Homo sapiens: one gene and its partners. The protein of the gene in region 6 purifies or fractionates together with the protein of the main gene of each other region. This does not show direct contact. Each region holds a gene or a part of one and is shown on either strand. Other genes may lie near its edges.

Region 1 (3,296 bases), on a different chromosome or scaffold from region 6:
AAAGAGTGGGCGGTCAAGGAAGGCCTCACTAAGGAGGTGATCTGACAAAGGAGCAAGCTAGAGAAAAGCACAGTTCCCAGCCAGAGGGAACAGGAAGTGCAAAGTGGCTGCAGGGTGGTGAGGGGACACCCAGGAGCTGAGGCAGGAGGAGGAAGAGGCTGGGGAGGGCATGCTGGCTCTTTGGATTTTGTTCTAAGAACAGGGGAAACCATTAGAGGGTCTTCACCTGGAGGCTGGCATAGCTTGGTTTACCTGTAAGAAGAGACCCCCCGGCTGCCCTGGGGAGACTGGGATGTGCAGAGGGGAGGCAGGGAGACGAGCAAGGAGGCTGCTGTGCTTCCCAGGGAGGTACCAGGTAGCTCAGACCAGTGGGAAGTGGAGTTAGGCAAGAAGCAGGAGGCCTCCCAAGGGGCGGTGATCAGCCAGGCTGCTTTTCCTTCAGGTTCCTTTAGCAAATTTGTGAATGTGATATCAGCCAGGACGGCCATTGGCCACGACCGGAAAGGGCAGCTGGTGCTCTTTCATGCAGACGGCCAAACGGAGCAGCGTGGGTGAGTCCTGGGAGCTGAGGCCCCCCGGCCGGGGCTCAGTCCTGCTAGGAGGAACGTTGACCCAATGACAGCCACCCTCTGACTCTACCTGCTTTCTGGGATGTTGACACCTATCTGTCCCCCCTCCCAGGGCCCCCTCACCTTCCCACAGGATGAGGGTTCTGAGATCTTTGCCGATTCCAAGAACTCATCATCTTCAGCTTTAGGCCTCACCTTTCCTGAACCCTAGATAGGATACAAGGAAATGGTCACAAAGTGAGCAGGGAGAAGATCTTGGTTCCAATCCCAGCTTAGCCATCGATGACTTGTCTACCCACCTATGCCGTAGACAAGTCCCTCGGCCTCCCTGAGCCTCATTTCTAGCCCCTGTAAAGAGAGTGTTTTGGTTTGCTCTGGTTGCATAACCAGCACAAATTTAGCAACACTCAGCAGGGAATGTTCTTTTGTTTGTTTGTTTCTTTGAGACAGGGTCTTACTCCGTCGCCCAGGCCAGAGTGCAGTGGTGCAATCTCAGCTCACTGCAACCTCTACCTCTCAGGTTCAGGTGATCCTCCCACCTTAGCCTCCCAGGTAACTGGGATTACGGGCACCCGCCACCACACCCAGCTAATTTTTGTATTTTTAGTAGAGATGGGGTTTCATCATGTTGGCCAGGCTGGTCTCGAACTCCTGACCTCAGGTGATCCATCTACCTCGGCCTTCCAAAGTGCTGGAATTAACAGGCGTGAGTCACCGCACCTGGCTAATTTTTGTATTTTTAGTAGACACAGGGTTTCATCATGTTGGCCAGGCTGGTCAACTTGGAATGTTCTATGTTCAGGGTGTCCCATGGACAAAACCAAGATGCTGGTTAGGCAGGGCTCTTCTCTTATCTGGAAAGAATCCTCTTGTTTAGGTTGTTGGAAGAATCCCCGTCGCCTCCTCAGTTGTGACTGAGGTCTTGGTTTCCCTGCTGGCCGCCATCTGGGGCCTCAGCTCCTTCAAGCTGCCCAGGTTCCTTCCCATGTGTGTCCTCTCCCCCAGTTGTCCGGCCACCCTCTCATCCCCCTCGTATTTCAAATCTCACTTCCTATTCTGTCACCAGCCAGAGAAGGCTCTCTGTGTTGAACACTCCTGTGATTCCAGTGGCTGCACCCAGATCCTCCGGGCCGTTTCCCCTCCCTTAAGGATTCCTATGCCATGTAACAGCACAGGCATGGGTGTGATCTCACGTGTTCACAGCTTCCGGGGGCTAGGATGAGACATGCTTGGGGGCGGGGGCCACTTAGAAATGTGCCTGCACTGTGGGCGTGATGCTCTGCACTGTGGAAGGAAAAGGAGTTAAATGAGAAATGATGGTGGGCGCTGAGCCTGAGCAGCGCCGCTTTGTGCCGCAGCATCAACCTGTGGGAAATGGCGGAGTTCCTGCTGAAACAGGACGTGGTCAACGCCATCAACCTGGATGGGGGTGGCTCTGCCACCTTTGTGCTCAACGGGACCTTGGCCAGTTACCCGTCAGATCACTGGTAAGCACGTGAGAGCCGCCTTCGTGAGGGCTGAAGTCCAGGTCTGCCCCAGCCTGTCTCATTCAGCCAATATTGAGTGCCTGCTATGTGCCAGGCCCCGGGGGTTCAAGAGAGCAGAAATTGCTGCAGTCCCTCCCCCAGGATGCCAGTACTACCCAGGCCTAGGAGCAGGGTCAGTTGGTCAGCAAAGACCTCCCTGAGGATGACAGAATAAGAACTGAGATCTGAAGGAGGTGGTAGCTGGGTGGGGGTGGGAGAGCCTTCCGGGCAGAGGGCACCACATGTGAAAGGCCCAGGGCTGGGAGGGATTGTAGGGAGCGGAGGAACCTATAAAAGACTGGAGAGGGCTGGGCACAGGGGCTCACGCCTGGAATCCCAGTGCTTTGGGAGGCCGAGGTGGGAGGTTCGCTTGGGCCCAGGAGTTTAAGACCAGTGTGGGCAACATAGACCCTGTCTTTATGAAAAAATAAAAAAAAATTAGGCAGGCGTGATGGTGCACACCTTACGGTTACAGCTGCTCAGGAGGCTCGGGTGGAAGGATCGCAATACCTCATCTCAAAAATAGATAGACGCCATCTTGTAGGTAGGTAGGTAGACAGGTGAGAATGGAGAGAGGGGTGGTTGGGGGCAGCCTGGAGGGAGTTGAGGGGCCGTCTGGGGGTGTCCTCTCCTCACACATCACATCCCTCTACAGCCAGGACAACATGTGGCGCTGTCCCCGCCAAGTGTCCACCGTGGTGTGTGTGCACGAACCCCGCTGCCAGCCGCCTGACTGCCACGGCCACGGGACCTGCGTGGACGGGCACTGCCAATGCACCGGGCACTTCTGGCGGGGTCCCGGCTGTGATGAGCTGGACTGTGGCCCCTCTAACTGCAGCCAGCACGGACTGTGCACGGAGAGTGAGTGGGGGTTCTGGGGAGGGGGCTCTGCCCAGCCCTGCCTTGCCCTAGGCCCTCACCTGGCCTCCCCGGTCTTGTCTCGGCAGCCGGCTGCCGCTGTGATGCCGGATGGACCGGGTCCAACTGCAGTGAAGGTAGGAGCTGCCACGCCACTAGCGGATGGGGAGACGGTGGCCCCCGGCAGCCCCCACTGCTCCTCTGCTGCTTCTGTCTCCACCTTCTGGTCTGGGAAATGCTTGCCTCTTGTCTTCTGCCCCGGCCTCACCTGCACATCACTGTGTGACTCCCCTGTGGCTGCTGCGGCCCGTTCCACAAAGGGCTCGGCTAAAACAAGGGTCCC
Region 2 (3,490 bases), on a different chromosome or scaffold from region 6:
ATTCTCTACATGAAGCTGCTGCTGCATCTGTGGCACATAGACCATGGAGTGCCAGTAGCTGTGGTAATAGCACTTGAGCAAGAAAGGGCAACAAAAAAATAAGAAACTTCACTCTTCTCTATTCTTAATGTAATACAGTTCCCCACAGACAAAAAAAAAAAAAAAATAAGAATTGGGCCACGATTTTCAGGTGAGGTAGCAATGACTTTTTTGACCTAAAAACTTGACAGTCTGTTCTCTATTAGAACTTTAGGATCTTTTGCAGCATTTGTATCTCATATTTAAACCTAAGAATTCTTTTAGGAAATAATCTAAAAGACCTGTATACAAAGGTGTCTTTTATAGTATTTTTAAAAGCAAAAAACATTGCACATAGTATTTAACAACAGGGAACTGGATAAATTATATACCCGTAATGAAATACTATACAGGCAACGAAAATCATGCTGTCAAATATTTAAAGAAAAAATGCTTGTATTGTTAAAAGATTTAAAAATTATACAGCATAATCCATAGTTTGTAAAATACAAAATTGTAAGAAAATATATAAAGTATACAGTGATCATAGAGGTGATTTTAGTTTTCTTTATACCACAGTATTTTCAAAATGTACTACAATGGACACTATGATTTCTAATAAGAAAAATACTGAAATATCTATTCAGCATCTCCTGGTATTCTATGATGTAAAAGGCAGAATATTTTTAAATGCCTCAGTGAAATAGATTACAAAGTTTCCACATGTGACTATAATAAACTAACATAACAGAAGGGGCAAGCGGTTTATCAATTCTTGAAACTAAATTTAGGAAAAATAGTCTCAAAGAACAAAAACCCACCCCATTACTCTTAATTTATAGATGTGTACTATTTGGGAAGACAGTTTTCTTGGCACTGACATGTCTAAAGCTTCAGGGAAATCAGTGTCAGGGAATATGAACTAATCTGAGCATTATCCAGGAGAGCACAGAGTTTATCATCATCTGACAGATCTTAAGATGCATTATTCCTTTCAGTAAATATGCCATCTTGTTACATTTTAAGTCAAGTGTATTTCAGAGGGAAAGTGATCCCTGAAAGACTAAAATAAAAGAGCTCTCACCTCAACTCGGAGACACCTTTCACTGATAAAGACATTTGTCAGTACCCACCTGCCTCTACAACTCAGGGGAGTGGTGAAAAAACAGTGTTGAGCAAGCATCTATGAACACATGAGTGCTTTAAAAATGCAGCTATTTTTATTTTTATATTTATTACACAAGTTTTGGGATACACATGCAGAACATGCAGGTTTGTTACATGGGTATACATGTGCCATGGTGGTTTTCTACACCCATCAATCTGTCACCTACATTAGGTATTTGTCCTAATGCTCTCCCTCCCTTTGCCCCCAACCCCGCGACAGGCCCCAATGTGTGATGTTCACCTCCCTGTGCCCGTATGTTCTCACTGTTCAACTCCCACTTATGAGTGAGAACATGCGGTGTTTGGTTTTCTGTCCTTGTGATAGTTTGCTGAGAATGGTTGCCAGCTTCATCCATGTCCCTACAAAGGACATGAACTCATTCTTTTTTATGGCTGCATAGTATTCCATGGTGTGTATGTGCCACATTTTCTTTATGCAGTCTATCATTGATGGGTATGTGAGTTGGTTCCAAGTCTTTGGCATTGTGAATAGTGCTGCAGTAAACATACATGTGCATGTGTCTTTATAAAATGATTTATAATCCTTTGGGTATATACCCAGTAATGGGATTGCTAAATCAAATTGTATTCCTCATTCTAGATCCTTGAGGAATTACCACACTGTCTTCCACAATGGTTGAACTAATTTACACTCCAACCAACAGTGTAAAAGTGTTCCTATTTCTCCACATCCTCTCCAGCATCTGTTGTTTCCTGACTTTTTAATGATTGCCATTCTAACTGGCATGAGATGGTATCTCATTGTGCTTTTGATTTGCATTTCTCTAATGACCAGTGATGAGTTCTTCCTGTTTGTTGGCCACATAAATGTCTTCTTTTGAAAAGTGTCTGTTCATATTCTTTGCCCACTTTTTGATGGGGTTGTTTATTTCTTGTAAATTTAAGTTCCTTGTAGATTCTGGATATTAGCCCTTTGTCAGATGGATAGATTGCAAAACTTTTCTCCCATTCTGTAGGTTGCCTGTTCACACTGATAGGTTCTTTTTCTGTGCAGAAGCTCTTTAGTTTAATTAGATCCCACTTGTCAATTTTAGTTTTGCTTTTGTTGCCATTGCTTTTGGTGTTTTAGTCATGAAGTTTTTGCCCATGTCTATGTCCTGAATGGTAATGCCTAGGTTTTCTTCTAGGGTTTTTATGGTTTTAGGTCTTACATTTAAGTCTTTAATCCATCTTGAGTTAATTTTTGTATAAGATGTAAGGAATGGGTCCAGTTTCAGTTTTCTGCATATGGCTAGCCAGTTTTCCCAGCACCATTTATTAAATAGGGAATCCTTTCCCCATTCCTTGTTTTTGTCAGGTTTGCCAAAGATCAGATGGTTGTAGATGTGTGGTGTTATTTCTGAGTCCTCTGTTCTGTTCTATTGGTCCTATTGGTCTATATACCTGTTTTGGTACCAGTACCATGCTGTTTTGGTTACTGTGGCCTTGTAAAATAGTTTGAAGTCAGATAGCACGATGCCTCCAGCTTTGTTCTTTTTGCTTGGGATTGTCTTGGCTATATGGACTCTTTTTTGGTTCCATATGAAATTTAAAGTAGTTTTTTCTAATTCTGTGAAGGAAGTCAATGGTAGCTTGATGGGAATAACATTGAATCTATAAATTACTTTGGGCAGTATGGCCATTTTCATGATATTGATTTTTCCTATCCATAAGCATGGAACGTTTTTCCCTTTGTGTCCTCTCTTATATCATTGAGCAGTGATTTGTAGTTCTCCTTGAAGAGGTCCTTCACATCCCTTGTAAGTTGGATTCCTAGGTATTTTATTCTCTTTGTAGCAATTGTGAATGGGAATTCACTCATGGTTTGGCTATTATTGGTGTATAGACATGCTTGTGATTTTTGCACACTGATTTTGTGTTGCACACAACTTCAACTTTGCTGAAGTTGCTTATCAGCTTAAGGAGCTTTTGGGCTGAGACAATGGGGTTTTTAAAATATACAGTTATGTCATCTGCAAACAAAGACAAAGTGACTTCCTGTCTTCCTATTCGTATACCCTTTCTTTCTTTCTTTCTCTTACCTGACTGCCCTGGCCAGAACTTCCTATACTATGCTGAATAGGAGTGGTGAGAGAGGACATCCTTGTCTTGTACCGGTTTTCAAAGGGAATGCTTCCAGCTTTTGCCCATTCAGTATGATATTGGCTGTGGGTTTGTCATAAATAGCTCTTATTAATTTGAGATACATTCCATCAATACCTAGTTTATAGAGAGTTTTTAGCATGAAGGGGTGCTGAATTTTATAGAAGGCCTTTTCTGCATCTATTGAGATAATCATGTGGTT
Region 3 (3,500 bases), on a different chromosome or scaffold from region 6:
AACCTTGATCAGTGAGATATAAATAACTACCACAAGCTTAGTGTTCCAATAATGGAACACTAGGCATAAATAAGAAGCTATATACTAGAACTGTTCACCCCTGGCATCCAAGGTCTGCTCTACCACTTCACACTCCAGATGTGATTTTAGACCAACTACCTTAGTATAACAGACATACTAGTAGTTAACATGTATGATAATTATGAGGATGAAATGAACTAATGCTTGTTAAAGCACTTAGCGCAGTGCTCAGCATGCAGTCACTGCTCAATCTGTAGGAGCTATCATTTCCAATAATGAGCAACCTCCCACCACTCATTCTGTAATTGAGAAAACCAAGGTTCATAGGGTTAAATGACTTGTCAGTTGAGTTTCTCCAGTTAGTTGGTGGGCTACAAGTCAGAAGAACCAACACATGGGGGCTTTCAAGTACTTTTAGCTGCCTCAATTGTACCTGTGATGTAAATCTAAATTTTTACATATTGCTTTGCTCTCAAAGTAAAGTAAGATCTCTGTCTCATTTTTCTGTCTCCAGAATCTAGCATATAGTAGGTACTTAATAAAAGGACATTAAATTAGTGAATTATTGGCAATAAATAAAAATGTGGATGCTGATAACAATATATAAAGGAACTTACTGAAAGAAGCTTTAAGATAAATCTGAAAGAAAATGGTGACTATACATTAGTTCTAAGGATGCATAATGTTTCAGGGAATAGAATGTAGAAATGATCCATGTTTGGGAGATGGTACAGGTTGGGTATCCCTTATAAGAAATGCTTGGAACCAGAAGCATTTCAATTTTTTTGATTTTGGAATAGTTGCATATTTACTAGTTGAGCATTCCAAACCCAAAAATCTGAAATTGGAAATGCTCCAATGAGCATTTCCTTTGAGTGTCATATCGATCCTCAAAAAGTTTCAGATTTTGGGTGGAACATTTTGAATTTTGGACTTTATTTGGGATGCTTCAACCTGTAAAAGGATTCACTTAAAACAGAATGTTGTATGATAAAGTAGTGTAAAATTGTATACATAACACTGAAGTAAATTGAGTAAAAATTAAAAATATGTATTTGTCTTATGGATATAATAGATGATTTTTGTCTTTATACTTTCCATGTGTCTTCATATACCATTCCATGAGCCTGGCAGTATTAGGTTAAGAAAGAAAAACCTCAACAAATGGCATGAGGGTGATAAGAGATCTGGTACAAAGAGGAAGAATACATTAATTACACTAGTTGGAAATTTAGGTTAATTCAAAAGGGACCACTGTAGGTGTGTGACATTAAAACAGTGTTTATGGAATCCTAATCGTGAGGCTGTGTGAAGGACTGAAGGGAGCTGAGTAGGACAGGGACTCTTGATGTACATGTAAAAAGTGATGAGGCCCTGATGTAGTTTTATGGATTTAGAAACAAATTCTGATTAAGAGTTGATAGGAAAAAAAAATTCATCTAAGAATTTAAAGCTTGGAGACCAAGATGATATTGGTGTCTATGACACTGATGAAGTAAAGATGTTGGAGAGGAGATACTGGGAGGGAAGATGATGGGATCAAGTTTTCAATTTTGTATTTCAGATGTGGGAAGACCTCTAAGCAGGAAGAGACACAGGTAACTGTAAATACAGGACTGAAGAAAACAGATTAACCTGCTCAAGCTAATTTCAGAAGGTTTATACACCCAAGAAAAGTCATTCAAACAAGCCTTAAGGTTATTCATATACTACTCAAATGTGGAATCCCTATTTCCTTTAAACGTGTAATACAATTATATTTTCTTTAATATTAATTTTGCTTCCTCCTTAGAAGGAAACCTACTTATCTGTAAATTACATTTCAAATCTAATTATCCTGTCAATTTGCAGATGGCTTAATAAAGAAAAACAATTGCATGCCAGATTTAATCTGACTCTTTGGATCTTTTGTAATTTCAGTTAAGATATTACATAGAGTGGTTACAATAGCACAATACTGGAATAAAACAAATGAAGGATCTTTTTTTTAGTGGAAGAGGAAAATATAAGACACAATGAAAACAACCCAGCTTAAAAGCCCTCAAAATTAAGGTTACAGGAAAAAGGGAAAATCAGGTGAAATGTATAGGTATTTAATTAGTCTTTGGAGTGGTATAAAAGCTTATTCTTTTTAAAAGTTGTAACAAACATTGGCAACACTCCACTCTATCTCACTGCTATTCTTGCTTTATCAGAAAGCTATCTTTGAAACCTCTTGGCTAGGAAGGTGACAATTCCTCTAGGTTTCCATTATAACTTCATGCCTAATGTCATATTTACAGCACTGCATTATGACTATTATTAATACTATTATTGTAAAAGCCTCCTTATTAGTCTTTCTAGTTCTGCCCTTGTCCTACTGTAGTTTCAACACTATAGTCAAAACAACGTTGTGTCTGATCACGTGAATACCCTGGTCAAAATCCTCCACTGTCTTCTCATTTCACGTGGAGTAAAAGCCACAGTATGGCCTATTATGCCTTACGTCACTCCATACCACCTATAGGCCCCTTAGGATTAACTATCCGACCTTATCAACTCTTCCCTTTGCTCTCTCCATCCAGTCATATTGGCTCCTTTATGTTCATCAGATTTAATAGGCATGTTCCTGCCTCAGCGTATCTTCTTGGAACACTCTTCTCTCCATAGTCATCTCCTCTGGGCCATGCTGAAATGTCAGCTGAGTGCCCCAAATGAAATAACACTCAGTGCCCTCCCCCTCCACTCCCTATTTCTTTTATCCAATTTTGTTTTTTCTCCATTACACTTATATCTGACAATATATTGTCATGTTTACTTGCTTATAGTGTCTTCTTTTCCACCAGAATGTAAGTAAGCTCCATGGAGGCAAGGGACTTTTTGTTCAGTGCTATATCCTGAGTGCCTGGCACAGAATTCAATGAATACTTATCAGATAAATGAATAATCTGTTCAAGTGTAGTTCATACTGAAAAGATTTGGAATCTTGAGATCTCTGGAACATAATATATACTGAATAAATATTTATGAATTAAAAGGTAAAGATGGCCAAATCTTACACTGAAAATACATAAAAATTAAAAAAGGGTAAAAATATGCATCCACACATTAATATCTTGGTACATACCTGTTTGAATTCTGAATCTTTTCCCAACATAACTTGAAGACTGTAAATAACTGGATCACCTTTCATTGGCTGTAAACACTCCCATGTAATTTCACAAATGTGATCATTTACTTTCTCTATTTTGGGGGCTGTAGGAAACAAATATAAATAATATCTGTTCCACTTGATTTTTAATTTGGTACATCATGCAGACACTTGTCTTAATAAAAATCAACAAATATTTAAAATCCACTTATAAACTTGAAATAAGTATCAGTGAATTTTTGAAATTTGCATCCAAAGAGGTTAAAATCAGCACTCTTGTATTCTAAGATATGGGATCTCACTCTGTCACCCAGCCTGGACAACAGTGGTGCGATCATAGCTCAATGCA
Region 4 (3,500 bases), on a different chromosome or scaffold from region 6:
CTTCACCTCGCTGGGCTCTGGTTTCCTCATCTGTAAAATGGGTTGACAAGTCTATTGCTTGGAGGGCTGTGATGAGGACAGAAGGAGACAGTCCATATAAAGCTTTTGGACTAGTGCCTGCCATACAGTAAGGCTCTGGAACGTTCACTGCTGTTATTATTATGGTAGAGTTTAAATCAGTCCTTTTATGGGTGTGATGTCGGAGGCCCAGAGAAGTTTGGTAACCTGCCCAAGGCCACACAGCTAGGAAGAGCTGGGAAGATGCACCCCAAGCCCGACTTTCCATTGTGCCAACCTGCCTCAAAGACAAGCAGGCCTCCCGGACCCACCTGGGACCCAGGCCCTTGAAGATACTTCTTGAGACAAGATACTCTTTTCCTTAGGGGGTACATGGAAACCAGGGCTCTACAGGGAACCCCATCAGGCCATACTCAGATGCCTCTGGTCTCACGGGTACTGCTATAAGGAAGCTCTGGAAGGGAGCCTAGCCCTGGGTTTAGGGCCAGAAGGCAGTGTTGGGTCTGGGCCCTGGGGGCAGAAGGGCCTAGAAGGCAGGCCGTTTTATTTTTTTTGAGACAGGATCTTGCGCTGTCGCCGAGGCTGGAGCACAATGGTGCGATCATGACTCACTGCAACTTTGAACTCCTTGGCTCAAGCGATCCTCCAGCCTCAGCCTCCGAGTAGCTGAAACTACAGGCATGTGCCACCACACCTGGCTATTTTTAAAAATTTTTTGTAGAGATAGGTTGTTATGTTGCCCAGGCTGGTCTGGAACTCCTGGGTTCAAGCAGTCCTCCAGTCTCAACCTCTAAGTAGCTGGAACTACATGCACATGCCACCACACCTGGCTAATTTTTTTTTTTAGACGGGATCTCACTCTGTCACCAGGCTAAAGTGCAGTGGCACAATCTCGGCTCACTGCAACCTTCGCCTCCCGGGTTCAAGTGATTCTCCTGCCTCAGCCTCCCAAGTAGCTGGGATTACAGGTGCATGTCACCATACCCGGCTGATTTTTGTATTTTTTAGTAGAAACGGGGTTTCACCATGTTGGCCAGGCTGGTCTTGAACTCCTGACCTCAGGTGATCCACCTGCCTCAGCCTCCCAAAGTGCTGAGCCACTGTGCCTGGACTAATTTTTTTTTTATTTTTGTAGAGACAGGTCACTATGTTGCCCAGGCTGGTCTGGAACTCCTGGGCTCAAGCAATCCTCCACCTCAGCCTCCCAAAGTGCTGGGATTACTGGTGGGAACCGCCACGTCCAGCCAACGTTTGTTGGCTCATATTTGCACATGGAGTCACGGCCACACACGGTTTACAGGTCTTAACCTGTTATGAATACCAGCGCTGCCTTCTTAGACAGGTTATGAAATGTGGCCACCAGTACCCTAGAGAGGCAGCAGACACATCTTCTGCTGAGATCCCAGGGGAGTGGGCACTGGCCAAGCCCTAGGTGAGCCAGGGGGAGGACTGGGGGGTCTGACAGAGGGTGAGCTGCCTGGTACCCGACTCTCTGGGATGGAAGGGGGCTACCCCCAGGGATCCTGACTCATGGAGTCAGCTGGGAGATGCGAGGTGTCCCTTCAGGGCCAGGATTCCCGCCCACCGCCCCCGCTGCTGGTCAGTGCGTTTGTCATGCTGCCCGTCAGAGGGCGCAGGTTTGGCAGTGGCACTCTGACGGCGTCCAGGTGGCACGTGAAAGCTATGGAATTTTACAGCCACTTTTACTCCACTGGAACATTGCTCTAGGCGTGAGGCTTAGATTGCAGCAAGCAATTTAATTTTGAGGTTTTAAGCCCTCAAGAGACGTTTAGATGTAGACAAACTTGCTGCAAGACGCAAGACGCAACAGAAACGCATCTGGAAGACAGCAGGGAACATTTGTGGCTGGGAGTAAAAGCCCTTCTAGAAACCTCAGCCCCACACGTCCTTGAGGAGGGAAGGTTAAGCCCCTCGCCTTCCCAGCACACACACACACACACACACACACACACACACACACACAAAATGAAGCCACTAAAAAACAACTGTCTGGCCAGGTGCGGTGGCTCACACCTGTAATCCCAGCACTTTGGGAGGCCGAGGTGGGTGGATCACCTGAGGTCAGGAGTTCGAGACCAGCCTGACCAACAAGGTGAAACCCCGTCTCTACTAAAAATACAAAAATTAGCCAGGCGTGGTGGTGCACATCTGTAATCCCAGCTACTTGGGAGGCTGAGACAGGAGAATCACTTGAACCCAGGAGGCAGAGGCTGCAATGAGCCAAGATGGCACCATTGCACTCCAGTCTGGGCAACAGAGCAGGATTCCATCTCAAAAAAGTAAAATTAAATTAAAAAAATTGGCCAGGCGCAGTGGCTCACGGCTGTAGTCCTGGAACTTTGGAGAACAAGGTGGGTGGATCACAAGGTCAGGAGATCGAGACCAGCCATGGCCAATATGGTGACACCCCGTCTCTACTAAAAATACAAAAATTAGCTGGGCATGGTGGCGGGCACCTGTAGTCCCAGCTACTCGGGAGGCTGAGGCAGGAGAATAGCTTGAACCTGGGAGGTGGAGGTTGCAGTGAGCAAGATTGTGCCACTGCACTCCAGCCTGGGTGACAGAGCAACACTCCATCTCAAAATAATTAATTAATTAATTAAACAAAAAAAAAAAAACCTGTCCAGTCCCAGTCCTGTGGGGAGCTCAGCCCTGCTTCCACACCAAGGGCATGAGTTCTGCGGTAGACGACTGGGACTAAGGCTGAAAGAATGGCGTCCGGTCAGTGTTTCTCAGCATTGTTTGTAGCCCACCAGCCTCACAACTGCTGGGGAAGCATCTTCAAAGTTCAGATTCCTGGGGCCAACCTTCCAGGGCAGACTCTGCAGGTCTGTGGTGGTGGGCCCAGGGGAACAGCATTTTAGACAAGCTTCCAGGTGACTTTGAAGGCCCCCAAAAGCCTGGGAACCTGAGAAAAGAGGGTAATGGAGGGTGAAGTAGAAAGAGCCCCAGCTGCCAAGCCATACCAACCTGGGTTCAAGTCCTAGCTTTGCCACATGTACACTGTATAACTTTGGGCCAGAGACCTCATCCCTCTGGGGCTTGGTCTGTAAAATGGTAAAGCAACCTCACACGCAAGGCTGTGGCGAAGGTAAGATGGGCAAATGCGTGCAGCATCCCAGCCTGTGGCTCAGCACTGAGACATGGTGCTGAGAATGACCACGGACTATGAAGGTGCTACTGCAGGAAGGAGAAGCCAGAGACGCTGAGCACCATCTGTGGAGGGGCCAGCTCTGCAGCTCTCTCCCAAGCAGTGTATGGGAGAGAAAAGAGACTCCTGGGGAAGAATGGAGGAAGTGACGTGGGGGAGGGAAAGCGACAGGACAGTGAGCCTGAAAAACACAGGTGAGATGTCAGGAGCTCTGGCACAGACCTCACTCCCAGCGCGATCCTGCCAGACGCTCTCGCAGCCCCGCAAAACGAGGCTGCCACGCCTGTATGCTCTCCTTGCCCAAACCCTT
Region 5 (3,500 bases), on a different chromosome or scaffold from region 6:
TATTAGCTGGGTATGGTGGTGCACAGCTGTAGTCTCAGCTACTCGGGAGGCAGAGGCAGGAGGATCACTTGAATCCAGGAAGTTGAGGCTGTACTCAGCCTGGGTGACAGAGTGAGACCCTGTCTCAAAAAAAAAAAAAAAGTAAATTAAAATGAAAAATAAAAAAATTATAGAAGCAAAAATATAAGAGCAAGTAATCTAGCTAAATAAGAAGACCTGGTAGCCTTAGAAAAACTGTCTCATAAACTGTAGCCATTCGCATACCACTTTTATGATTTTTGAATATTTCTTTACCATTTGTGCTATTATTGACTTAATATTTTTGTCACCATTTTTCTTTAAATAAATTTACTTTTTTAAAAAGTGAGGAAGGCCAGGTGAGGTGGCTCACACCTATAATCCCAGCACTTTGGGAGGCTGAGGCAGGCGGATACCTTGAGTCCAGCAATTAGGGACGAGGTTGGGCAACATGGCAAAATGTCAACTCTCCAAAAAACAAAAAAAAATTAGCCAGGTGTGGTGGTGCATGCCTATAGTCCCAGCTGCTGGGCTAAGGTGGGAGGTCGAGGCTTCAGTGAGTTGTGATAGCGCCACTGCATTCCAGCCTGGGTGACAGAGTGAGACCCTGTCTCTAAAAAAAAAAAAAGAAAAAGAGAGAAAAATTTAAAAAGTGAGGAAATCAACAAACTCAGGGATCTAGAACTTGATTTTAAACAAACACAAAAAGCTGGGTGCAGTGGCTCACACCTGTAATCCCAACACTTTGGGAGGCCGAGGTGGGTGGATCACCTGAGGTCAGGAGTTCGAGGCCAGCCTGACCAACATGGTAAAACCCTGTCTCTACTAAATATACAAAAATTAGCCGGGCATGGTGGCACCCGTCTGTAATCCCAGCTACTCCGGACGGTGATGCAGGAGAATCACTTGAACCCGGGAGAAGGAGGTTGCAGTAAGCCAAGATCACAGCACTGCACTCCAGCCTGGGCGACACAGCAAAACTCTGCCTCAAAAAAAAAAAAATTATATATATATATATATATATATATATATACATATATATATATATATATATATATATATACATATATATATATATATATATATATACATATATATATATATATATATATATATAGAGAGAGAGAGAGAGAGAGAGAGAGAGAGGGTCTCACTATGTTGGTTAGGCTGGTCTTGAACTCCTGGCCTAAAGAGCAAGCTTCCTGCCTCAGTCTCCCAAAGTGCTGGGATTACAGGCATGAGTCACCGTTCCTGGCCCAGACTATATTCTCAGTGCATTATATGTATTAACTTATTTATTCCTCAACTCTATGAAGTACTATTGTTGATCCTATTTTGTAGATGAAGCAGCATGGAGAGGGTCAGTACCTGGCTCAAAGTCACACAACTAATAACTGATCCTGAACGAGGATTTGAACCCAGTCTAACTCCAGGCCCACATTCTTAATCAGCACTCTATACTGTCTTTCAGTTGAAATGAAATGTTGAACTTCATACCCATACATTAATGCAAGGTGTACAGGTAACCAGAACCTCCCATAACATCTAGTCTACAGGTGCTATACCTTTAGATTAAGTACTAAGTAAAGGAAATTAGCAAAAAAGAAACTCTGTGGTTTATATCAGAGTCTTGAGAAAATGGGAAGAGGCAGAAACAGGCACACACACAAAAATCACCTTACAGAAAAAAAATAAAAGACAAAAGGTTCATTATAATTATCATTAACAGTGAGGAAAAGAAATAAGCAAAGAGAATGTTTTAGGGAGAACATTTCAACAAAAGTCCTTGCTGGGGTGGCTGAAGGCAGATGTTATCTCTAAGCAAAAGAAACTACTAGTGAAAATGACAGAGCAGCTGGAATGCACATCCCAACACTTCCTTTTTAATTTTAATTTTAATTTAATTTTTTTTTAGATGGAGTCTCACTCTGTCACCCAGGCTGCAGTGCAGTGGCACAACCTCGGTTCACTGCAACCTCTACCTCCCAGGTTCAAGTGATTTTCCCGCCTCAGCCTCCTGAGTAGCTGGGACAACAAGCGTGTGCCACCATGCCTAGCTAATTTATTTTGTATTTTTAGTAGAGATGGGGTTTCACCATGTTGGCCAAGCTGGTCTCCAACTCCTGACCTCAGGTGATCCTCCTGCCTTGGCCTCCCAAAGTGCTGTGCTCACAGGCATGAGCCACTGCACCCGGCCACCAACACTTCCTGATCCTTTTCAATGTCATGACATACACAGAATATGATATTTGTGCATCACACTTCAACAAATGGAGGAAGCTGCTTCCAGATGGCTCAGGCTGTCAGGATCCCACCTGGCTGCCCTAAAGGCTAGGAGAAATGCTGGCATGGCTATAAACCATTCTCACAGGCTGGGAAACTCTGATATAAACAACTTAGGTAGTACTAAATCATGCACTCCAGCATTGACTGTCTTATTTCACCCACCTTCATAAGGTTTAATTCCTAGGGGGTTTTAGCTGCTAAAAACCATGTGGGGCTGGGCACGGTAGTTCATGCCTGTAATCCCAGCACTTTGGGAGGCTGACTGAGGTATTAGGGTTGCTTGAAGCCTGGAGTTTGAGACCAGCCTGGGCAGCATAGTGAGAACCAGTCTCTACCAAAAAAAAAAAATAAAATAAAACTTAAAAAATAAAATAAAAACAATGTGGATTGTTGTTTTTTTCAATATTCATCCTTAAAGGACAAAGCTCAGACACCCTTGATTATATACAATGAATGAACTTGAGAGCCCGAAGGCAATTCCCAAGAAGTGGTTCAAGGACTGTGAAAAACAGCAATAGCCCTGAGATGGGTGAAGAAGCTTCTGAAGTCATTACAGGACTTTCAAGACATAAACACACCTGGAGAGCTATAGTCTGGCACTTTGCTTTAAAAAAAAATTACAGTGGGGCACAGTGGGTCATGCCTGTAATCCCAGCACCTTAGGAGGCTGAGGTGGAAGGATAATTTGGGTCCAGGAGTCCAAGCTGCCGTGAGCTATGATTGCACCATTGCACTCCAGCCTCGGCAACAGAGCAAGACCCTGTCTCTAAAAAAGAAAAAAAAATTACCTAGTACTACTCACACACACTCTAGGATTAGAAGCCTCATCAAGTTTTTATCAGCTTTGGTGAGACTTTCATTAACCCCCACACGTATTCAGGGTTTCTTTCAACTTGATATTGTAAAACATTAACATAGAAGTGAAACTGTACACATGAGCTGGTTGTGGGGCCACCTTACAGAAGCATGATTTTTTCTTTTTTTTTGAGAGGGAGTTTTGCTCTTGTCACCCAAGCTGGAGTGCAATGGCGTGATCTCTGCCCACTGCAACCTCCACCTCCCAGGTTCAAGAAATTCGCCTGCCTCGGCTTCCCGAGTAGCTGGGATTACGGGTCCTAGCTACCACCAGCTGCCACCACGTCCAGAAAATTTTTGTATTTTTAGTAGAGACGGGGTTTCACCATGTTGGCCAGGCT
Region 6 (3,500 bases):
TGACAGACGTGCCCCGCCCCAGGAAGTGGCTGGGAGTGGTCCAGGACAGCAGGGAGGACAGTGCAGGCCCAGGCACTCCCCCACCCCAGAAGGACAGATGGACACTCACTCAGGAAGAAGTACAGGTGCTGCTGGTTGTAGGGTAGGTATCTGCGTTTCTTCTTGCCATACTGTGGAGACAGGCGGCGGCTGGAGACAGCAGCTCTCCAGGCCACCTCCTTCTCCCGGGCAAGGTCACGGGGCTGGCTGGGGCCAAGGGTCAAAGGCAACTCTAGATTCTAGCAAGCGGGCTGGTCGTCCCCAGCAGGTTGGGAGGTGGGAAGGAAAGACACGGGGGCAGAGCTTGGCCCAGCCAGAGTGGAGGCCAGATCAGGGGCTAGGTCAGGGGCAGAGTGGGGACCCAGTGCATTAGCTCCCCCTCAGCTGCAGGCCCAGCCAGAGGTTGTCCACGTCCCTCCCCACCCACCTCGACGGATGACTCCCCCAGGAGGAAGACGGGCGCCACCGTCACGTCTGGGTCTTTGTGGAAGATGTTGGGCTTGGCGTGGTGCTGGAAGTGGCGGAAGTTCCACCAGTGGGCGGAGAAGCCCTGTGGAGGAGGAGGGGGCTCTCAGGGCAGGCTGTGCCCCCGACTGTGCCCACACACTTGGGCAGACCCAGCGCCACCCAGCACCTGGCTGACCACCCACCCCACCCTCACCTTTAGCTGCCCCATCACGAACTTCTGGGCCACGTGGTTCCACCAGGACTTCTTGAAGATGGAGGCATGGCCCAGGTCATGCTGCAGACACCAGGACTGAGCCTGGGGAGAGAGGCAGGGTCAGAAGCTGTTGGGAAGGACGGAGCCCGCCAGGGCCTGGGGCCCCAGTGAATCCTTTCAGCTTGCAGGGTACCCCCGTGCTAATGCTCCATTTCAAGACCCTTGTGGGCCAGTGTCCTCTTTTTACAGATGAGAACTGAGTCCCAGGGAGGTGGAGGGGCTCGTAAGTGTCATGAAGCTGCAGGGCAGCAGCCTCTGGCTCAGTGGCCCTGTGCTTGATCGGAATCTGTTCAAGAAGGAACTTCTTGGCTCATCTGGAATGCAGCTTGACCCACAGACATGCCTGATGGGCCTTCAGACTGTTCACTCATTCATCTGTTTATTCATCCATTCATCCTTTCATAGGTCCATTCATTCATTTAGCAAATATGTTCACAATGCCCAGATGCATGGGGGCCCACGTCTGTTGGGCAGTTAAGGTGGCTGCAACACAGAACTGGGGTCACCTGAGAGATGGCCAGGATGAAGGCGGCCAGGGCACTGGGCACCCAGCCAGGACCCAGGAGGTAGATAAGGAGCCAGGCCAGCACCTCCATGGCCAGGATGTGGCCCAGTAGGAAAGCAAAGAAGGTGGGACTGGCATCAAACAGCTTCATGTCCTCGGCTGCCTGGTGCAGGGCTCGGAAGTCCTCGACCAGCTGCGCCTGCCATAGCAGAGGGGCCGATCAGCCAAGGAAGAAATTCCTCCCCACCCCCATTCTCCTGGAGCCCCAGCCGCTCCTCCCATCGCCAGGCCCAAGGGGTGTGGGCAAAGAGGAATGAAGTGACAAGAGTACCCAGCCCGGGGTGTGAGCTGGAGCACTGGCTGGTGGTGAAGCCTCCTCTCCCTCCCAAAAGGTATGGGGTGGGTAAGACGCTACAGCCAGGAGAGAAATCAGTTCATCAAAATCCTCCTTTTGATGGGGACACTGGGCGACAACAGGGAGGGAGCTTGCCTCGGGATCCAAACGGGTGCCTGGCTAAACCAGATCTGGAGCCCTGGACTTCTCAGGGCATCCCTACAGCTTCACTTTCAACTGCCTGCCCCCTGGGAGGGGAGGGCAGGCTCAGCCCTGGCTCTGCATCCCCTTGGGCGAATGCCGAGGGAGCTGCTCCTGGCCATGTGGCAATGTCTCCCAGCCCTCCAGCCATCCCCCTCCCTCAGGGGCTGAGCCTCTCCTAGGGCTCTGGCTCACATTCAGGGGTCCATCCTGGCTGGGTTCTTCCGGAGCCAGCTCTCCAATCAACAGGGGCTGTAGGAACTTGCGCACAAAATTGAGATCTTGATGGAAGGCACGGAAGGCATCCTGAAGGAGAGCAGACAGTCAGGCGGACAGACAGACACAGCTGAGTAGCACAGCGGCAACCAGCAGAGACAGGCGGAAGGACTACGGATGGATGGGCAGAGCAGACGACAGGCGGACAGGAAGTCAGCCGGCTGATGAACAGTCAAAGACATGGGCCCTCCCTGGTCCTCCCAGGGCCCCAGGTTGTCCTGCTTTTCACCCATTGCCTGCTGTGCCCCATCCACTTCACCCAGCACAAGGGCCCCTCTCTGAACACGGTCAAACATCTGCAGCTCTGGATTTACAGAAAGACCTCCCGGGAAGACTTTGATTTCTTGAACCACGAAAAAAGGTTCTGCTTTTCCAAAAAGCTTAAGTCATACAAGTTTCCACTGCATGTAGAATAAGATCTGGGTCACGAACATTTGATTTACCCCGTTTTTATAAACATAAGCAGTGGGTGAAGGGTAGGTGGGAAAACCTGGAACTGAGGACCACTGGGTCACGGGGCGGGGGGATCAGTCAAGGGCGACACACATTGAGTCCTTGGGGGTTTGCAAGGAAGACACTTGAACAGTTAAACTGATTTGACTTACAAAGCAGGAAGCAGGAGCACAAAACATAATTTTTTTTTTTTTTGAGACAGTCTTGCTCTGTTGCCCAGGCTGGCATGCAATGGCATGATCTCAGTTCATTGCAACCTCTACCTCCTGGGTTCAAGCAATTCTCCGGTCTCAGCCTCCGGAGTAGCTGGTCTCAAACTCCTGACCCCAGGTGGCCAAGCTGGTCTTTAACTCCTGACCTCAGTTGATCTGCCCACCTTGGCCTCCCAAAGTGCTGGAATTATAGGTGTGAGCCACCGCGCCCAGCCTAATTTTTTTTTTAAAGTAAATAAAATGGGCCAGGCATGGTGGCTCACATCTGTAATCCCAGCACTGTAAGAGGCCAAGGCACGAGGATTGCTTGAGGCCAGGAGTTCAAGACCAGCCTGGGCCACATAGTGAGACCTTGTCTCTATTTTTACAAAAAAGAAAACATCATAAATAAAATGAATAATCCAACATTCTCGCGATTCTGTGTAATAGCTGGAGTGGGGGTGGAGTACGATGCAGGAGAAGGAAGAAAGAGTAAAGAAAGGGGGTGAGAAGAGAAGACAGACCAGGAGAAAGATAAGGGCCAGGGAAAGAGACCAGCCAGGAAGTGGCCCAGAAGTAAAGTAAGCTTGAACTTCACACCTGGGCTCACTTAGCCTTCCAGGTCTGCCTGTGGTCTTGGTATTGTAATCGGCTCACTAATTGTTCACAGCTCTTGGACTGATTTTTTTCCTTGTACTTTCAGAGGCTTTCTCTGAATGGGCTAGCCAGAGCCATACAGCAGCTTATAGAACCAGTAGCTGGGTGGTGTTGTCCCCATGG
Region 7 (3,500 bases), on a different chromosome or scaffold from region 6:
ACTACAGGCTTGTGCCACCACACCCAGCTAATTTTTGTATTTTTAGTAGAGATGGGGTTTCACCATATTGGCCAGGATGGTCTCGATCTCTTGACCTCATGATCTGCCTGCCTCGGTCTCCCAAAGTGCTGGGATTGCAGGCGTGAGCCACCGCACCTGGCGGGATGATTGTTGTAAACATCTCTGCTGTGCAATTCCTTCTATCTCATAAGTAGGGAAGCTGATTGCCTAACTGCATGGTGTGGTCTCTTATTTTGCTAAAATACATCTCCAAAAAGCAAAAAAAAAATAAAAGGAATATCTATTTTGCAGAGGAGTAAACAAAGGCTCAGAGCAAAGAAGGTGACTGTCACTAGGTCTAGGCAGGAAGGATAGAACCCAGTGCCAAGCATATTCCCCCGCCACCACCCAGCATCTCCCCAGGGCCTCAAACAGAAGCTGGGCTTTGAAAAAACAGGCCCTGGGGTCCCACTGCCCAGGAATAGCATGTGAACCCACAGGTAAAAGGGTCACCACCAGGCAGTCACAGAAGGACAAATGCTGTCTGATTCCACATACAGGAGCTAACTAGAGTAGTGAAAGAGAGACAGGAAATAGAAAAGTGGCTGCCAGGTGTTGCAAGGAGGAAGAAATGGGAAGCTTGTGTCTGATGGGTATGGAATTTCAGTTTGGGAAGAGTAAATTCTCGGGATGGATAATGGTGATGGGGGCACAACAGTGGAGATGTACTTAATGCCACAGGACTACATACTTAAAAATGGTTAAAATGGGCCAAGCGTGGTGGCTCACGCCTATAATCCCAGGACTTTAGGAGGCTGAGGCGGGTGGATCACCTGAGGTCAGGAGTTAGAGACCAGCCTGGCCAACACGGCAAAACCCCATCTCCACTAAAAATACAAAAATTAGCCAGGCGTGGTGGCAGGTGCCTGTAGTCCCAGCTACTCAGGTGGCTGAGGCAGGAGAATCGCTTGAACCCAGGAGGCAGAGACTGCAGTGAGCCGAGATTGCACTACTGCACTCCAGCCTGGGTGACAAAGTGAGACGCTGTCTCAAAAAAAAAAAAAAAAAAAAAAAAAAAAAAGGTTAAAATGAAAACATAGGTTAAAATGGTAAATTTGATGTTATGTGCAGATGTGGGCTGAATCATGTCTCCCAAAATTCATATGTTAAAGTCTCAACCTTCAGTACCACCGTGACTAGATTTAGAGACAGGGTCCCCCCAACTTTTTTTTGCGATAAGGTCTCACTCTGATGCCCAGACTGGAGTACAGTGGTGTGATCTCGGCTCACTGCAGCTTCAACTTCTGAGGGTCAGGCAGGGCCCAGTGGCTCACGCCTGTAATCCCAGCACTTTGGGAGGCTGAGGCGGGTGGATCATGAGGTCAGGAGTTCGAGACCAGCCTGGTCAACATAGTGAAACCCCATCTCTAATAAAAAAAAAAAAAAGCAAAAATTAGCTAGGCACTGGGTGCAGTGGCTCACGCCTGTAATCCCAACACTTTGGGAGGCCAAGGCGGGCAGATTGCCTGAGGTTGGGAGTTCGAGACCAGCCTGACCAACATGGAGAAACCCCATCTCTACTAAAAATACAAAATTAGCTGGGCATGGTGGCACATACCTTAATTCCAGCTGCTCAGGAGGCTGAGGCAGGAGAATCGCTTGAACCCAGGAGGTGGAGGTTGCAGTGAGCTGAGATCGCGCCACTGTACTCCAGCCTGGGAAACAGAGCGAGACTCCATTACAAAAATAAAAATAGGCTGGGTGCGGTGGCTCACACCTGTAATCGCAGCACTTTGGGAGGCCAAGGCAGGCGGATCATGAGGTCAGGAGATAGAGACCATCCTGGCTAACACGGTGAAACCCCATCTCTACTGAAAATACAAAAAATTAGCCAGGTGTGGTGGCGGGTGCCTGTAGTCCCAGCTACTCGGGAGGCTGAGGCAGGAGAATGGCGTGAACCCGGGAGGCGGAGCTTGCAGTGAGCCAAGATTGTGCCACTGCACTCCAGCCTGGGCGACAGAGCGAGACTCCGTCTCAAAAAAAAAAAAAAATACATAAAATAAAAATAAAAAAATTTCCAAGGCTCAAGTGATCCTCCTACCTCAGCCTCTTGAATAGCTGAGACTACAGGTACGTGTCACCATACCTGGCTTTTTTTTTTTTTTTTTTTTTGAGATGGAGTCTCACTCTGTCCCCAGGCTGGAATGCAGTGGCACGATCTCAGCTCACCGCAACCTCTGCCTCCTGGGTTCAAACGATTCTCCTGCCCTCAGCCTCCTGAGTAGCTGGGACTACAGGCACGTGCCACCACACCCAGCTAATTTTTGTATTTTTTTTGTATTTTTTATTTTTTTTGAGACGGAGTCTTTCTCTGTTGCCCAGGCTGGAGTGCAGTAGCGCGATCTCAGCTCTCTGCAAGCTCCGCCTCCCGGGTTCACGCCATTCTCCTGTCTCAGCCTCCGGAATTTTTTTATTTTTAGTAGAGATGGGGTATCACTATGTTGGCCAGGATGGTCTCGATCTCTTGACCTCGTGATCCACCCGCCTCGGCCTCCCAAAGTGCTGGGATTGTAGGTGTAAGCCACCGTGCCCAGCCAGATTTTTTTATTTTTAGTAGAGACAGGGTCTTACTATGTTGCCCAGGCTGGTCTCAAACTCCTGGGCTCAAGCAGTCCTTCCAACCTGGCCTCCCAAAATGCTGGGATTATGAGGGTGAGTCATTGTGCCTGGCCCAGATAGGGTCTGTAAAAAAGTAAGGTTCAGTGAGGTCATTATGGTGGGTACTAAGCCAGTATGACTAGTGTCCCCATAAGAGGAGCTTAGGACACAGACACACACAGAGGAAAGACCACATGAAGACACAGGGAGAAGACGGCCTTCTGCAAGCCCAGGAGAGAAGCCACAGAAGAAACTGCCCCTGCCCACAGCTGGATCCTGGACTTCCAGCCTTCAGAACTGTAAGACAATGAATTTCCTATTTCAGTTGTTTAAGCTACTCCGTCTATATTACTTGATACAAGGGCCCTAGCAAACTACTTCAGTATTTTTTGTGTTTTTATTTTTTCACAAATCAGGTAGCCCCCCAAAAACCAGAACAGGTTCAGGGAGACTCCCTACTTCAGTATGTTTTACCAGAGTAAAAAAAAGGTTTAGAAAACATTCCATCATACAAAAAAAAAAAGAAAAAAAGCAACTCTACCATACAGTAATGATCACCATCCTCAGCTGATCAGCTGACTTTTCCTTTCTTCCTTATTTTTATTTGAATGTTTTCGGTGAACAAACCCAAGTCCCGTCTGCTCACCTAAACAGCACACCTTTGATGACCTGCCAGGCATTGGGTGCCGGCTGGGCCGGTGGGTTCTGAGGCTGGGTCTCCGCTGGCGGGTCCCTCCCGATGCTGCCATTGCTGGTCACCTGTGGGGGACAGAGGCCAGGGTAAGGAGGGAGAATGGACACGGGGGCTGTCTTAGACACCATCATGCATGAAGGCCAGGCAC

The links.
Region 1: the proteins of FADS3 (region 6) and NAGPA purify together in Homo sapiens (affinity purification with mass spectrometry; 2 studies listed by BioGRID and IntAct, with this or other methods). This does not show direct contact.
Region 2: the proteins of FADS3 (region 6) and ALG13 purify together in Homo sapiens (affinity purification with mass spectrometry; one large-scale study listed by BioGRID and IntAct). This does not show direct contact.
Region 3: the proteins of FADS3 (region 6) and FNDC3A purify together in Homo sapiens (affinity purification with mass spectrometry; 2 studies listed by BioGRID and IntAct, with this or other methods). This does not show direct contact.
Region 4: the proteins of FADS3 (region 6) and LRRC8A purify together in Homo sapiens (co-immunoprecipitation; 3 studies listed by BioGRID and IntAct, with this or other methods). This does not show direct contact.
Region 5: the proteins of FADS3 (region 6) and ERICH5 purify together in Homo sapiens (affinity purification with mass spectrometry; 2 studies listed by BioGRID and IntAct, with this or other methods). This does not show direct contact.
Region 7: the proteins of FADS3 (region 6) and CLPTM1 purify together in Homo sapiens (co-immunoprecipitation; one large-scale study listed by IntAct). This does not show direct contact.

The regions. Positions count from the first base shown.
Region 1 is NC_000016.10:5,027,640-5,030,935, reverse strand, and holds part of NAGPA (N-acetylglucosamine-1-phosphodiester alpha-N-acetylglucosaminidase precursor), read left to right. Parts: intron 1-442; coding exon 443-551; intron 552-1,927; coding exon 1,928-2,056; intron 2,057-2,750; coding exon 2,751-2,956; intron 2,957-3,042; coding exon 3,043-3,090; intron 3,091-3,296. UniProt on the Homo sapiens protein: Catalyzes the second step in the formation of the mannose 6-phosphate targeting signal on lysosomal enzyme oligosaccharides by removing GlcNAc residues from GlcNAc-alpha-P-mannose moieties, which are formed in the first step.
Region 2 is NC_000023.11:111,754,170-111,757,659, reverse strand, and holds part of ALG13 (UDP-N-acetylglucosamine transferase subunit ALG13), read right to left. Parts: intron 73-3,490; coding exon 1-72. UniProt on the Homo sapiens protein: Catalytic subunit of the UDP-N-acetylglucosamine transferase complex that operates in the biosynthetic pathway of dolichol-linked oligosaccharides, the glycan precursors employed in protein asparagine (N)-glycosylation.
Region 3 is NC_000013.11:49,202,912-49,206,411, reverse strand, and holds part of FNDC3A (fibronectin type-III domain-containing protein 3A), read right to left. Parts: intron 3,256-3,500; coding exon 3,128-3,255; intron 1-3,127. UniProt on the Homo sapiens protein: Mediates spermatid-Sertoli adhesion during spermatogenesis.
Region 4 is NC_000009.12:128,888,633-128,892,132, reverse strand, and holds part of LRRC8A (volume-regulated anion channel subunit LRRC8A), read right to left. Parts: intron 67-3,500; exon of another isoform or gene 1-66. UniProt on the Homo sapiens protein: Essential component of the volume-regulated anion channel (VRAC, also named VSOAC channel), an anion channel required to maintain a constant cell volume in response to extracellular or intracellular osmotic changes.
Region 5 is NC_000008.11:98,071,068-98,074,567, reverse strand, and holds part of ERICH5 (glutamate-rich protein 5), read right to left. Parts: intron 1-3,500.
Region 6 is NC_000011.10:61,878,046-61,881,545, forward strand, and holds part of FADS3 (fatty acid desaturase 3), read right to left. Parts: intron 2,107-3,500; coding exon 1,996-2,106; intron 1,465-1,995; coding exon 1,267-1,464; intron 803-1,266; coding exon 701-802; intron 590-700; coding exon 467-589; intron 234-466; exon of another isoform or gene 171-233; coding exon 110-170; intron 1-109. UniProt on the Homo sapiens protein: Mammals have different sphingoid bases that differ in their length and/or pattern of desaturation and hydroxyl groups.
Region 7 is NC_000019.10:44,961,880-44,965,379, reverse strand, and holds part of CLPTM1 (putative lipid scramblase CLPTM1), read right to left. Parts: intron 3,418-3,500; coding exon 3,305-3,417; intron 1-3,304. UniProt on the Homo sapiens protein: Involved in GABAergic but not glutamatergic transmission. Binds and traps GABAA receptors in the endoplasmic reticulum (ER).